Homo sapiens: one gene and its partners. The protein of the gene in region 2 purifies or fractionates together with the protein of the main gene of each other region. This does not show direct contact. Each region holds a gene or a part of one and is shown on either strand. Other genes may lie near its edges.

Region 1 (3,980 bases), on a different chromosome or scaffold from region 2:
TAGATTGCCTTCTCTTTTTATATGTCACTGATGAAGTTTTTGACATTGTATCTCTAACAGTTTTTCTCCTAAAGGCTGCAATTTTTAACAATTTTGCATAATGCAGTAATTTTTGGAAATATATGTGTCACAGCAAAACTGACTGTGGTCAGTAGAAGAGGACATGATGACCTTTCTTTAAAACTCTCTAAAACGATTTTCCCACTGGGGCTTGCCAAAGACTTCATACAACATCCTTACCTGCAACAGATTCTTGGAGAATCATTGCATCTGCTGGTCACGAAACCCAAGTGGCGGAGTACCTTGTATTGCACTCTGGACCTGGTACAGAGCCGTCTCTTAACCTGGGCCCCATTCATAACTGACATTCTTTTTTTTTTTTTTTTCTTTTGAGATGGAGTCTCGCACTGTTGTCTGGGCTGGAGTGCAATGGCATGATCCTGGCTCACCGCAACCTCCGCCTCCCGGGTTCAAGCAATTCTCCCACCTCAGCCTCCCGAGTAGCTGGGATTACAGGTGCCTGCCACCACGCCTGGCTAATTTTTTGTATTTTTAGTAGAAACGGTGTTTCACTGTGTTGGCCAGGCTGGTCTCAAACTCCTGACCTCGTGATCCACCCGCCTCAGCCTCCCAGAGTGCTGGGATTACAAGCGTGAGCCAGCGTGCCCAGCCATAACTGACAATCTTAAGAGGTATTTTATAAAATGAATCAAGCAGTACACACCCTAATGAAGTATATCTTGCCTCCAGTGTGCAGTGAGCTCCCAATGTCCAGTCTAAAGAGGCAGATAGGTGCGGCCTTTCTTTTTTCTTAAGAGTGGAGTTTGCAACATGCTCCAGACTACACTCCCACGAAAGTGGTGGGCCTCAGAGTGAGGATGGTTATTCCTTCACCCTGATATGTGGCATGTACGTATCTGACCAGTACCATTGAAAATACCCACTACCTGTATCAAGTCCAGTCAACATGATGTCAGTATAGTGGATCAAGTGATACTCTCTAGACTGTGCAAAACCATCTAAGTCCATGAGTACTGTATTATTTGAGAGAGCCAGGAAAGTTACTCTAACTCTGAAGACTGAAGGTATATCATTAAACCTGCCAAGATAAAAACGGATTGTTTCTGTTTGATCTAATTGGGAAAGGGGAAAAAGCAAGTACTTGATTGATAACTGCATAGCCATATTGATTTGCTCCAGCAAAAATACCACATCCTGTAAAGCAGCTGCAGCTGGAGTTTGATTGTTTATGATACTCTTAAATACTTGCAAGACTCATCTACTTTTTGTATAGGTCAAGGAGGCATCTTACATTGGGATGGGATGGTGGTGTCAATATCTGCAGTTCCTTTAGGACTGTAGTAATTGCTTATTGTTTTGATTGAGAGGGACAATTCTAGGGACTTGGATTTGGTGTTTCCTATAATAGTAGCCCATACATCATGGGTCAGGGAACTGATATAGTATGGGATTTCTGCCAGTGCCAAATATGTCTGTTCCAACTATGATTCTGGAGATGGAAAAATAAGCACTGGGTCGAATCATATCCCTTGGGCCCGCTGAGACAGATACAGTCCCAAATTTTATCAGCTAGCTTTTGTAAAGTGTCTGTGTAACCTCCTGGACCACATGAGTATATTCAGTCACCAGGGATAAGCAGAGCTGGCATAAGTGTGGGACCCAAGAGCAAACAACACATGATAGGCACACCATCTACTAAATATTTGATTCCGAAGAGCTGTTTACTGTTTTCCAGATATTTTATGTATTTTTTTATTGAGGTGAAATTCACATAGCATAAAATTAACCATTTTAGAGTGAACTATTTAATGCTATTTAGTACATTCACAGTGTTGTATACCATCATTCCTGTCTAGTTCCAAACGCTGTCATCACCTCGTAATAGCATGCTATACCCATTAAGCAGTTTCTCCCCATTCCCTCCTCCCCCTAACCCCTGGCAACCGCCAATCTGCCTTCAGTCTCTGGATTTACCTATTCTGAACATTTCATTTAGGTGGAATTATATAATATGTAACCTTTTATGTCTAGCCTCTTATTTTTTAATTTCAGAAAAATGTGTTTTATTTGTTTTTTCTTTTTTCAACTTTATGTTAGAATTGGGGTACATGTGCAAGTTTGTTACAAACGTATATTGCGTGATGCTGAAGTTTGAAGTATGAATGAATCTGTCACCCAGATAGTAAGGATAGTACTCCATAGGTAGTTTTCCTTAACTCTTCCCCCACATCCTCCCTCCGCCTTCTTGTGTTCCCCAGTGTCTGTTGTTCTCATTTTTATGAACACGTGTACCCAATGTTTAGCTCCCATTTATAAGTGGGAAATGTGGTATTTGATTTTTCTGATTCCACATTAGCTTGCTTAGGAAATGGTTTCCAGCTACATCTGTGTTGCTGCGAAGAACATGATTTTGTTCTTTTTTATTAGCCTCTTACATAGCATAATGCTTTCAGATATACTACAATGTTCATTCATGTTGTGGTGTGTATCAGTACTTCATTCTTTTTTATGACTTAGTGATATTCCATTTTATGTGTTTACCACAATTTGTCCATGACGCACATTTGATATATTAACAAATGAACAACTGAAGTTTAGTTTTCACTTATGTAGTGAAAAAGCAGTGGTCTAGAGTTAGATACTTGGATCTGTTCCCTCCTCAGCTGGTTGTTGTCCATCTGTGAGCTTTAAAATACTGTTCTTGGAATTTCAGTGTGCCTGGGCTGTAAAGGTGGCAGTATGAATTTTGAAGATTTTGAAATGGTTTCTCCAGATGGGTTTCACCAGTATGTCTTATTATTCCCCTGCTCAAAATCCTGTTGCTTCTTAAAAAAGACTAACCTTAGGCTTTATTCCATGTTAGCTCTGGTTTAATTCTTCATCCTTGTAACCTATTAACATTCTCTGCATTTGAGCCCAAGTAGACCACTTAGTATTATGAAACACATGCAATTTTCTTCTTTAGTCCAGATATCCATAGCATTTTATTGGTCTCTGTTTTATGAAATTTTATTTTACTCCATTGTGCAGAGGAGGTATCAGAATTTAGTTATTTCTATCTAAGGTACTGAAAGAGAAAAATAGCAATTCAGTTGTTGGATAATAAAGGAGGTTGAAGAAGAAGATTGTATTTTTCTCCATCTTGTGTGTATAGCATGTGGTGCAGTTCTAAGCAGAGTAGAAAAATGCTTTTTGATTGACTAAAATTTTTCCTATGCATGAACACAAGGAGTCTTTTCTTTTTGCTTAAATGTGGACTTTAACCAGTTTCTTCAAGTGAAGTTAAGTGACAGAGAAGAAGGAAAAGTGAGACTATGTATAGCCACAATTCTCATATTAATTAATCTGTTCGGTTTATACATTATTTAGTTCCACTTAAATTCCTTTTATCATTGTTTCAGTTTTATGTTGTGACTGAACAATTAATATTTAAGCCATTCTGTGAATCAAGAGTGAAGTAAAAGTAAACTCTTCTCAGAATTTGAAATTTATAGGTGGATATATAATAGTGAACATAGATGAGATATTTGTATCCTTTTAAAATTTACCGTTGTCTTGGAGAAGGCATCAGTATACTTGAATTATATTGAGTTAATTTGAGGATCATTCTAGTTTTTTAGGAGATTTATCTCATTTTAAGCACTGAGAATAAAGTTTGAGTTACCGGATATGCAATCAGGGTCTTTCAGTGATCTTAAGTCAGCAATATTTTTCATCCTTAAAGACATAAATATGTCAATGTTCACAGAAACAAAAAGAAACAGTTTGGATTCTTCTGACTGATGATGATAATTTTCAGATCAAGTCAAAATACAATGATAATTGCCTTAAGACCATTGTTATTGATATCTCTTAAATTGTTTTCTTTTTTTTTTCTCCCCATTAGGGAGAGGAATCAAATGAGTCTGCAGAATCTAGCAGTAATTGGGAAAAGCAGGAAAGTATTGTACTGAAATTGC
Region 2 (3,154 bases):
GTATCAGTGGAAAAACACATTCAAGATGTGCTGCAGTTCTCGAAGTTGAAAGCAGCCTGCGGTTGTGATGGCCAGTTAGAGATGCAGCAGATAAAACAGGAGAGACACCTGAAACAAATGTCAACCATTCACAAATCTGCCACCACCCTTAGCAGAGATTATAAATGGAATGGATTTGGGAGAAGCTTAGGTTTAAGATCAGTCCTTGTTAACCAACACAGCATTCTCATGGGAGAAGGATCTTATAAATGTGATACAGAATTCAGGCAGACTTTAGGGGGAAACAACTCTCAGAGAACCCACCCAGAAAAGAAATCTTGTAAATGTAATGAGTGTGGGAAGTCCTTTCACTTCCAGTCAGAACTTAGGCGCCATCAGCGATGTCACACTGGAGAAAAGCCGTATGAATGCAGTGACTGTGGAAGAGCCTTTGGTCATATTTCATCCCTTATTAAACATCAAAGAACTCATACTGGAGAAAAGCCCTATGAATGCAGTGAATGTGGGAGAGCCTTCAGCCAGAGTTCGTCTCTTGTTCTGCACTATAGATTTCACACTGGAGAGAAACCCTACAAATGTAATGAATGTGGACGAGCCTTTGGTCACACTTCATCCCTTATTAAGCATCAGAGGACTCATACTGGAGAAAAGCCCTATGAATGCCGGGAATGTGGGAGAACCTTCAGCCAGAGCTCATCACTCATTGTGCATTACAGATTTCATACTGGAGAGAAACCTTACAAATGTAATAAATGTGGGAGAGCCTTCAGCCAGAGTTCATCTCTCACTCAACATTACAGATTTCACACTGGAGAGAAACCCTACAAATGTAATGAGTGTGGAAGGGCCTTTGCTCATACTGCATCCCTTATTAAACATCAGAGAAGTCATGCTGGAAAAAAAACCCTATAAATTCAGTGAATATAGAAGGGCTTTCAGCTGGAGTGCAGACATCACTGGAACTTAAAGAATTCATATCAGAGAGAGATCCTAAAGGTGTAATGTATGTGGGAAGACCACATCTTGTTCCACATCAGGCAATAATTACTAAAGAGAATCCCTGTCAATGTCAAGAGGGGGTGGGCTTCCCCTCTCTTACCAAACATGGGAGAATCCATACTAGTGAGAAACCACGTGAATGTAATGAATGTGGGAACGCTTTGATCAGAGGATGCATATTATTCAGCATCAGACAGCCGACACTGGGGAGGAGCCTTATCAATGCAGTGAGTGTGGCAAGCCTTCAGTTACATACTGATTCTTTAAGAAAATCAGATAACTTGTACTGGAGAGAAATCCTACAAGTGTGGTAAGTATGGAAAAATCTTCAGTTGTATCTCTTCCTTTACTAAGCATCAAGAACACATACTAGAGAGAGGCCCTATGAAAGCAGGAAATAGAGGAAGGCCTTCAGTCAGGGCTCATCCCTTATTAAGCATCAGAAAATTCATACCTGAGAAAAACCTGTGAATGTGGGTAATGTGGGAGAGCCTTCAGCCAAACCTCATTGCTTTATAAACCCCTTAGAACTCTCCCTACTAGCTGGAAACTCTGGTGACGTGATGAATGTGGGAAGGGCTTTGGTGGATGTTCCACCAAAACACGTTAGAGAATTTGTACATTAGAGAATTTGTGCTAGAGCAACTCTTCAAATTTAGTGAAACTGGGAAAACCCATTAGTAGAGTTCAAGCTTCAGTATTCATCTCAAAGAGAAACCTTGGGAACATGATGAATGTGAGGAAAGTTCCTTTCCAACTTGAGATGTATAAAACTAGAGCTGAAAAGAAGCTGAGAAATCACCTTGTCTGGTGATTTTCTGCCTGGTGGGGCCATTTGTATAACGACACTTGTGCATTGCCTCCTCATGCTGTTACTGACGGGGCAGGGTGTCATGCATGGGTGCAGAGGATGGAGGCTGAGAAAGGTAGACAGCTACCCATGATCTAGCCCAGTCGTATTTTAGAGCTAATAAAACTGATGTTCAGAAAGTGACATGCCTTGGCCTATAGTCCTAACTGGGCTGGGCCTCTTTCCTGTGGTTCACAGCTGTAGTATGGAGATTAATAGACTGGATCTTTGCAGTACAACACCTCTATGCACTTCTTTCTCTGTAGCACATGTTACCTTTCTTTGTGAGGCAATGGAGTGGTCTAGGATTGAGCAAAAAGCAATTTTTGTTACATCTTTATGCTAATAGATTTGGAATTTTTGAAATGAAATGAAACCTTGTTTAAACATTAAAATTACTAAAATAGGCTGGGCGCGGTGGCTCACGCCTGTAACCTCAGCACTTTGGGAGGCCGAGGCGGACAGATCACGAGGTCAGGAGTTCGAGACCATCCTGGCTAACACAGTGAAACCCTGTCTCTCCTAAAAATACAAAAAAATTAGCCAGGCATGGTGGCGGGCGCCTGTAGTCCCAGCTACTTGGAAGGCTGAGACAGGAGAATGGCGTGAATCGGGGAGGCAGAGCTTGCAGTCAGCCGAGATCACGCCACTGCACTCCAGCCTGGGAGACAGAGTGAGACTCCGTCTCAGAAAAAAAAAAAAAAAACAACTAAAATATGGGTATTATGCACAATCCAGATCTCAAAAACGTGATTCTAAGTGAAAGAAGGCAGATGCCAGAGACCAGGTATTTTCTAGTACCATTTTAGGAAATGTCCAGAAATGGCAGATCTTCAGAAACAAAGTAACTGCAAATGTTACAAGGAATCTTTTTAGGGTGACGAAAATGTTCTAAAACTAGATGGTGGTGATGGTTGAACGATTTGGTAACTTCACTAAAAATCATTGAATTGTTCACTTTATATGGGCAGATTTTATGGTAAATATACCTCAATAAAATCATTTTTCAAAATCAAATTTACACATATACCAACCATTGCTAAACAAGTATTCCTGTTTTGTTTGTTACTTCAAGCCATCTATGCATTTTTGGTATCACTTTTTATTTTCTGTAACAGTTACCCCTACATTTACTGGGTCTCAGAACCTTGTCAGGCTCTGCTTTAAAGTTCCTACCATGTTGGCTCTGTAACTCAGGTGGAGAAGCCTAGACCAGGAGCTGGCGTAGACCAAAGGATACTTGCCTAATAAGGATTAGCTTATACTGAGGAAAATACTTTAAGCATTTAAAGTCCAGATGAGGAA
Region 3 (3,980 bases), on a different chromosome or scaffold from region 2:
GAGGCAGAGGTTGCAGTGAGCCAAGATTGTGCCACTGCACTCCAGCCTGGGTAACAGAGCGAGACTATGTCATAAAAAAAAAAAAAAAAAAAAAGAATGAAGTGAATAATTGACTTTCATATCATTTAGCATTTTAAGTATATAGTCTCATAACTAGAACATGATCGTGGTTCAAAAATAAATCACTAAGATGCTGCTCATGGGGGTGGGAGAAAAATAGTACAATTCAGCAGCTTTCCAAAGGAAGGTGAGGACAATTTAAAATGATTCCACTGTTTGAAATTAATTAAGAGTCTTCTTTTTTTGTTTGTTTGTTGTTCTTTTTTTTTTTTTTTTTTTTTTTGAGACTGCGTCTCGCTCTGTTGCCCAGGCTGAAGTGCAGTGGTGTGATCTTGGCTCACTGCAGCCTCCGCCTCCCTCCCAGGTTCAAGTGATTCTCGTGCCTTAGCTTCTCGAGTAGCTGGGATTACAGGCACCCACCACCATGCCTGGCTAATTTTTGTATTTTCAGTAGAGATGGGGTTTCGCCATGTTGGCCAGACTGGTCTCCAACTCCTGACCTATGTGATCTGCCTGCTTGGCCTCCCAAAATGCTGGGATTACAGGCGTGAGCCACCGCGCCTAGCCAAGAGTCTTCTGGTAAGCAATTGGCACTGCCCTGGTCTCCTGGGTGCCTCTGGGGAGTGGCTTCCAAGGGACAAGGTTCGGACCATTTAGTGTCTGGAGGGTGCCCTGATTCCAGGCAGAGTGGGCCCTGTCTGACACAGTTTTCTGGCTACAGAAGCCGTTCCTTTGTCTAGGTCTGTGTCACCCGATCAGGTGTTGGTTAATGTTTCATTGCTTAAGAAGCGGACAGGACCCGGAGAAAGCGTGCTGTTCAATTTTTCTCTGAACAGTCTGTGTGTTCAGCAAGGGCTTAGGAAATTCTTATAGCCATGAATAACCTGTTTATTCAGTTACTTTGTTGACTTCACTCGGACACTGATGATTAAGCAGAGGTAAACATACGTGGTCACTGTCATCACAGATTTTTTAGTCTGGCGGGAAAAAGACCATTTAAGAAATAAACACATATGATGTGTTGTGATGAGCGTATTAAGGAATATTAGAGCACGCCGTCAGTGTGTTGGGGAGGCCGTGTTTAGATTTGGGAGGCAGCTTCAGCAGAGCTCGCTGAAGAAGTGACATTCAGCTGAGGCGTGAGTGACAGAGTTGGCCTTACCTGTGGGGCTCAGCTCTGGACAAAAACAGAAGGACGTAGGAAGGCCAGAGGGGCAGGACACCACTCAGCTACTTGACTGAAGTATGCAGAGCCTCCAGGGCGGATGGCATAGCTCAGGGATAGGGACATACAAGCTTAGTATGGTGCCTGCTCTCATTTGGGTTTTGTCTGTCATCAGAAGAGATATACTTGTAAGGATGATTAATTTGATGGGAAGGTAGAATGGGAAGTGGCATCTGTGTTTCTCTCAGGAGAGTCTTCTGTCCCTTTGGCCCTGGACAGATTCAGGCAGAGCCTTGACTCCTCCATTTGTGTGGTCAAAACCAAGGACGTCAGATGGGAACCTCAAGCTTGTGGGTTCCACCTTGTCATTTCACAGTTGGGGCCATGAGGTCCAGAGACGGGGAATGCCTTGCTTAGGTTGATGCCCTGAGTCAGAGATAGGGCAGAGACCAGGACTCCTGTGTCCCGGGGAAATGTTTACTCTGCGCGCCAGTGGTGGTGGGCTTGGCGTTAGATCTACTGTCTTGTTCTCTATTTTCTGTTCATGTTTGTTTATTGATCTCTTTTTCCCATTTATCTGCCTTCTTGTGGGTCGAGTCCTTTTTATGACTGATGGCTTATTTGCTCTAACTCTGTGTCATTGTGGTTTACTGTAGGATTACAGTACACATCTTCCCTTACAGTCTGTCTGCAAGGGGTGCTCTGTTGGTTTCAGCGTAGTGCAAGAACTCTGTGGGAATATACTTGCATTTCCCCTCCCGTCGATCTTTGTGATGTTATTGTCATACGGTTTACTTCTCTTTAAGAAGTCACCCAATATTTTATTGGCTTTGACTTGTTGTGGTTTGGCTTTTTTGCTTTGAACAGTTGTGTTTTTTTTTGTTTTTGTTTTTGTTTTTGTTTGTTTTTGAGACGGAGTCTCGCTCTGTCGCCTAGGCTGGAGTGCAGTGGCGCGATCTCGGCTCACTGCAAGCTCTGCCTCCTGGGTTCATGCCATTCTCCTGCCTCAGCCTCCCAAGTAGCTGGAACTACAGGTGCCCGCCACCAGGCCTGGCTAATTTTTTGTATTTTAAGTAGAGATGGGGTTTCACTGTGTTAGTCAGGATGGTCTTGATCTCCTGACCTCGTGATCCTCCCACCTCGGCCTCCCAAAGTGCTGAGATTACAGGCGTGAGCCACCACGCCCAGCCAAACAGTTATATTTTAAAGAGACCCAGAAATGACAGGAAAAAATCATGTTCACCTCACCAGGTGCTCTTCGTTGCTTTTTGTTGTATATCCAAGTTCCCATCGGAGATCATCTTCCTCCCTCCTGAAGGAATTGAATGTTTCCTGTAGTGCAGGTTTGCTGGTGATACGTTCTTGTTTCTTTTGCATGTCAGAAAAAGTCTTTACTTTGTCTTCATTTTGAAATAAATTTTCACTGGGTATAGAATTCTAGGTTAATTTAATCTTTGTTCCTTCAGTTACCAATTTGTGTCTTTTCTCTCTCTTTTTCTGTGGCTGCTTTTAAGTTTCTTCTGGTTTTTTTGTTTTGTTTTGTTTTCCCTTAGAGACAGGATCTCACTGTGTCACCCAGGCTGGAGTACAGTGGTGCTCACTGCAGCCTCGAGCTCCCGGGCTCAAGCGATCCTCTCACCTCAGCCTCCTGAGTAGCTGAGACCACAGGCATGTACCACTACACCCAGCTAATTTTTAAAATTTTTGGTACAGATGTGGTTTCTCTGTGTTGCCCAGGCTGGTTTTGAACACCTGGCCTCAAGTGATCTACCTGCCTTGGCCTCACAAAGTGCTGGGATTACAGGCATGAGCCACTGTGCCCAGCCTGTGCCTGGTAATTTTTTACTGGATGTTGTGAATTGTATTTTTTGGGTGCTAGTTATACTTGTATCTCTACAAATACCCTTGAGCTTTTTTCTGGGACACAGCTGAGGTACTGGACACACACTAAGGCAGGGCCAAAGTAGCCTTCAGTTTGGGCTGATTTTGTCTCACCACTGGGCAGTGCCCTCTGAGTAGTGGGTCTGATGGCCCGTGAATTACCAGCCTTTCCACCCTGGCTATTGGGAAGAGCAAACCATTTGTGGCCCTGAGTGCCCCTCCAGTGGTTGTTCCCTCTGCTCCTGATTGTTCCCTCTGCTCCTTATGGGTGGTGCTGTCCCAGCCTCTGGTTTCCTCGCACACGTGTGCACTGGGTGGGAGGAACCCTCTGTGGGTCTCTTCAGCTTGCTCTGCGTGGCTCTGTGTGGCTGTGTCCTCTCTGATACTCAGTTCCGTGATTTCTCTCTGTCTTGGTCTCAGAATCTCAGTGCTGTCTTACCCATCCCCCATTGCCTGGGAATCTAGGCAGTGAGCAGGGGCAGTCAGGGAGCTCTCAGGGATTGTTGTCTTGGGCAGCCTGATGTCCAGGATCTGAAAACTGTCGTTGCCTACGTTTCATCACATTTGTTAGTTGTTTCAGGCAGGAAGACAATGCTTAGTTCTCCCATCTCAGCCAGAAGTGGAAGTCCTTTCCCCATGGGGACATTTCTGACAGTCCATGTCTGTGTCAGAGCTCTTCTCAGGCCCAGCTGGAGTGGATGGGTGCATTTCTTAGTAGCCCCACAGCTGTTTGTGGGCACAGTGGAAATAGAGAAAACAATGTGGATGGGTAGGACTTCTGGTTATTAGTTGTGAGTAATGAAGTTTAATGGTTTTATAACCTTGCATGTTTGTGTGTTTTCCTTGTGATGACTTATCTTGTATTAAAAGCAGT
Region 4 (3,980 bases), on a different chromosome or scaffold from region 2:
GGGAATGGAAATCTTTTCTTAACATTTTACACCTCTACCCCTAAAATTTTAAGAACTGTACTTTATAAAAATGTGCAATTTTCATACAGCATCCCAGTGTTGATCATGGAGGTTAATGATTCTTTATTGTTAGGGACCTATCTTGTAATTCCAGAGTTATTTATGTTTTCTACAGTTGAAGAGGAAAAATACCGCTTCTTATTGCCTCCTTTTCAGGATTTCTTCTGGCTTCTTGAGTAGCTGGAGTATTTTTGAGAGACTCCTACAGGCCCTGCGGGGTGGCACATGCCTGTAATCCTAGCTACTTAGGAGGCTGAGGTGGGAGAATTGCTTAAACCCGGGAGGCAGAGGTTGCAGTGAGCCGAGATCGCATCACTGCACTCCAGCCTGGGCGACAGAGCAAGACTCTGTCTCGAAAAAAAAAAAGGCAAACAAATTTATCTGTATCAATTTGGAATTAAAAGATTTGTGTGTATAGATTTTTTGTTAAAAATAGAAGAAATAGGGGGAGGGTCCTTTTCTGAAATCTGAGAATGATAGGGATGATGACTATCAAAACCCAGGCCTGTGACTGGCTTGTTTAAAAACAAAACAAGGCCGGCCCGGTGGCTCACGCCTGTAATCCCAGCGCTTTGGGAGGCTGAGGCGGGCGGATCACAAGGTCAAGAGATGGAGACCATCCTGGCCAATATGGTGAAATACAGTCTCTACTAAAAATACAAAAATTAGCTGGGCGTGGTGGCGCGCGTCTGTAGTCCCAGCTACTCGGGAGGGTGAGGCAGAGAATCACTTGAACCCGGGAGGCGGAGGTTGCAGTGAGCCGAGGTCGGCCACTGCACTCCAGCCTGGCAATAGAGCGAGACTCGTCTCAAAAACAAAACAAAAAAAAACACAGAACTTTTAAATTGGGCTTAAAATTTTTTTGTGTATGAAGTTTTAAGATAAATGTGAGAGATGTCATAGCATTTTGCTTATTCAGCGTCTTTAGCAATTTAATTCCATATATCATCAAATTGACCTTACATAAGGGTAAAGCTTTCTTTCTTATAGTAGGGATAGTGTTAACCTAAGAGAGTCTTGGGTTTAATCTATTTTCCTAAATTTAAGTACTATCATTTATCTGATTTTAATGCTTTCAGTTGTTCTCCTCTCCCCTTCCATTTAAGCAAAGAATTTGTAAACTTAAAAAAAATTAAAATCTCAAATTTTTATATTTGAGGTTCTTTCACTGAAGGATGTTGATCTGCTCAATATAAGTAGAGGGCAAGATTTTGAAAAGGAGCAGTGCAAGTAATTATACCCACAGCGCATAACTAATTTTACAGATCTGTCATAGAGGCTTATACTTTGTACCACTCATTAAATGGAATATAGAACCTTGAGATCTGAAAGAATGTCCAGGGATTTAAATATTTAGGGATGTGTGGTTTGGAAAACACTTTGTCTGTGGGCTTAATTTTGTAAATCAACCAAACTCTAACCTACGATGTAGCATGTGTATTATAAGAAGTGTGAAATGTCATCAATAATCAGCATAGTAGTTTCCTAGAACTTGACTGGCAGAAAACTTTCTTTGATAGTATCAGTGGGTGCTCACCCATTAGATAACTAAAAGATGTGTATTCACGTGCTAATGAATTAAAACTGATTGCTATTTGTTCATATGTCCTCACAAATTTAGCAAGACAGGCATGGAGGTGAAAAAAATAGTAACAACTAGATGAGGGAAAGATTGTATACACTGAAGAAAAGTTGAGAGGAGAATACTAAAGGGAAATATGGTTTCCCTTCCCTCCTTTTAAGTTACTTATATATATAGTTATATATAATCCTTACTGTCCCATGACTTTCACCAAAGATGGAGTGACTAGGCCTGACTGATATGTAGAAGAAAAGTTGTGATCTTTCCTTGAAACCAGGACCCTATCATCTGACTTACCAAGATTCATAAATACTGTATAACTCCAGAAGATTAGAACATAATGTTAAATCACATTAGTCCTTACAAACTTGTTTTTTCTACCTTTGAAATTGCCACTTATACATTAGTTTTTTGAACATTACAATTGATCAGGATATATAAGCTATGAGACTTATGAACCACGTTTAAAATTTGTACAAAAGATTATAAATTTTACAGGTGATTTCACAATTATGGCATGAGTTTAAATTTGATTATATGTGGGTGTCAGTTACTAAATCATGTATTTATGATAAGACTTCTAAATTTTAGAGAATAAGGAAACATACAGAATTAGAATATGTTTGAGTCTTTGCAGATAAAGACCACATTGACTTCAGAATGCAGCATATAGGCATGCTGCATTTAAAAGAAGGGAAATTATTATTTCAATTTAATATGAGCAGTCGCTATCTTCTTTTTAAGGGATTTGTTCTAATAGCAGTTACGGTTTAAGAAGATAATGGAAGTGTTGCTTTAACTTCATAGGGGTCTGTAAGAGTATTCTCCCATACTCAAGGGGAAGGAAGCAGAACTGTTGTTCTTTCTATAGGCTGAGGTTGAGTAAATACAGGTTTTTTACAACTCCTAAAGAAGTTCTTTAGTAAGTAGTAAAATGAATATTGTAAGGTATTTGAATAATTTCGGTACATTTCCCTTCTTTTTGGGTACTTGTGATTTTCCTCAATGCACTAGTGTGTATCTATGGAAATAGAGCGCCAGTGTCATAAAGTAGCAGGAAAATACATTTTTAGTAAGTCTGTTTTACAAGCTTATACTCATAGACTTGGACTTGAGTAAATTTGGCCCTATTAAATGGCATAGAATTTGCCTGGCCTTAATGTTAGAGTAAGTTACAGTATAGCATTTAATAGTTTATTTATTTTAATGGATAGCACATATATATATTGTGTTGGAATTTCTTTTTATAGTATGACACAGGCTATATTAAAAGACTGCAGTTATTGCTTGCTGTAGGAATTGTTCATGTTCCGCAACATTGTGTACATGTATATAATAACCCTTTTCCTGATTAAAAGAATAGTACATGGTTATTGTGGTTATTCACAGTGTGTAAAATACAACTCTATTTTAACACAGAAAGACAATTCTTAACCAGCTTGTATTGGTTACACTATAACACTTTCTTAGTGTTTTAGTTAGTTCCCTCCTTTTAATTTTTGGCCATTTCCTTCAACCAACAGCAGGGTCATCTTGATAATAAAGAATAGTTTAAACAAGCAGGCCGGGTGCAGTGGCTCATGCCTGTAATCCCAGCACTTTGCGAGGCTGAGGCGGGTGGATCACTTGAGGTCAGGAGTTCGAGGCCAGCCTGGCCAATGTGGTGAAACCCCGTCTCTACTAAAATAAAATACAAAAGTTAGCCAGGTGCGATGGCGGGTGCCTGTAATCCCAGCTACCCAGGAAGCTGAGGCAGAATTGCTTGAACCCAGGAGTTGGAGGTTGCAATGAGAAGATTGTGCCACTGCACTCCAGCCTGGGTGACAGAAAAACCAAACAAGCAAATAAACATCAAAACAAAAACCTGTTAAAGCAGGTTGTGCTGTGAGAAGAACTTTTCTGCCTGGCTTCTGCTTTATAGCCTATAAGATAGACTGGAGGCCTATTTAAGACTTTTGTTAAAATTCATGATACGAGTTGAGTTATTAATCTGCCCATTTAAACCGGGCAGTGTATTTTTAATGGTTATTGGATGCAGGAGCCAGATTACTGAGGAAATGGTAGGATTCCTTGACTGGACAGCTTTAAGAACAAGTAGTCTAGTGAAACAGGGCAGATACCACCCATTCCCAGCAATCTTTTTTGTTTGCAATTTCAATTCATTTTCCAAATTGTGGATAGTTTTATGAATTTCTTTGAGAAAAAGTTGAAATTATTTCATAATGAAGACGAGTCAGAGAGAAAAGGATTAGCCTAGCATTTGTCCTCTTTATATAAAGGACTTCTTATAGCCTGATTCCTAATGCAGAGTTCAGTGAAAGTGACATTTATTTGGTAA

Evidence for each region.
Region 1: the proteins of ZNF514 (region 2) and SMARCAD1 purify together in Homo sapiens (affinity purification with mass spectrometry; one large-scale study listed by BioGRID and IntAct). This does not show direct contact.
Region 3: the proteins of ZNF514 (region 2) and SAFB2 purify together in Homo sapiens (affinity purification with mass spectrometry; one large-scale study listed by BioGRID and IntAct). This does not show direct contact.
Region 4: the proteins of ZNF514 (region 2) and TRA2A purify together in Homo sapiens (affinity purification with mass spectrometry; one large-scale study listed by BioGRID and IntAct). This does not show direct contact.

What each region holds. Positions count from the first base shown.
Region 1 is NC_000004.12:94,245,747-94,249,726, forward strand, and holds part of SMARCAD1 (SWI/SNF-related matrix-associated actin-dependent regulator of chromatin subfamily A containing DEAD/H box 1), read left to right. Parts: exon of another isoform or gene 1-2,807; intron 2,808-3,907; coding exon 3,908-3,980. UniProt on the Homo sapiens protein: DNA helicase that possesses intrinsic ATP-dependent nucleosome-remodeling activity and is both required for DNA repair and heterochromatin organization.
Region 2 is NC_000002.12:95,147,040-95,150,193, reverse strand, and holds part of ZNF514 (zinc finger protein 514), read left to right. Parts: coding exon 1-912; 3' UTR 913-3,154. UniProt on the Homo sapiens protein: May be involved in transcriptional regulation.
Region 3 is NC_000019.10:5,605,415-5,609,394, reverse strand, and holds part of SAFB2 (scaffold attachment factor B2), read left to right. Parts: intron 1-3,980. UniProt on the Homo sapiens protein: Binds to scaffold/matrix attachment region (S/MAR) DNA. Can function as an estrogen receptor corepressor and can also inhibit cell proliferation.
Region 4 is NC_000007.14:23,525,120-23,529,099, reverse strand, and holds part of TRA2A (transformer-2 protein homolog alpha), read left to right. Parts: intron 1-3,980. UniProt on the Homo sapiens protein: Sequence-specific RNA-binding protein which participates in the control of pre-mRNA splicing.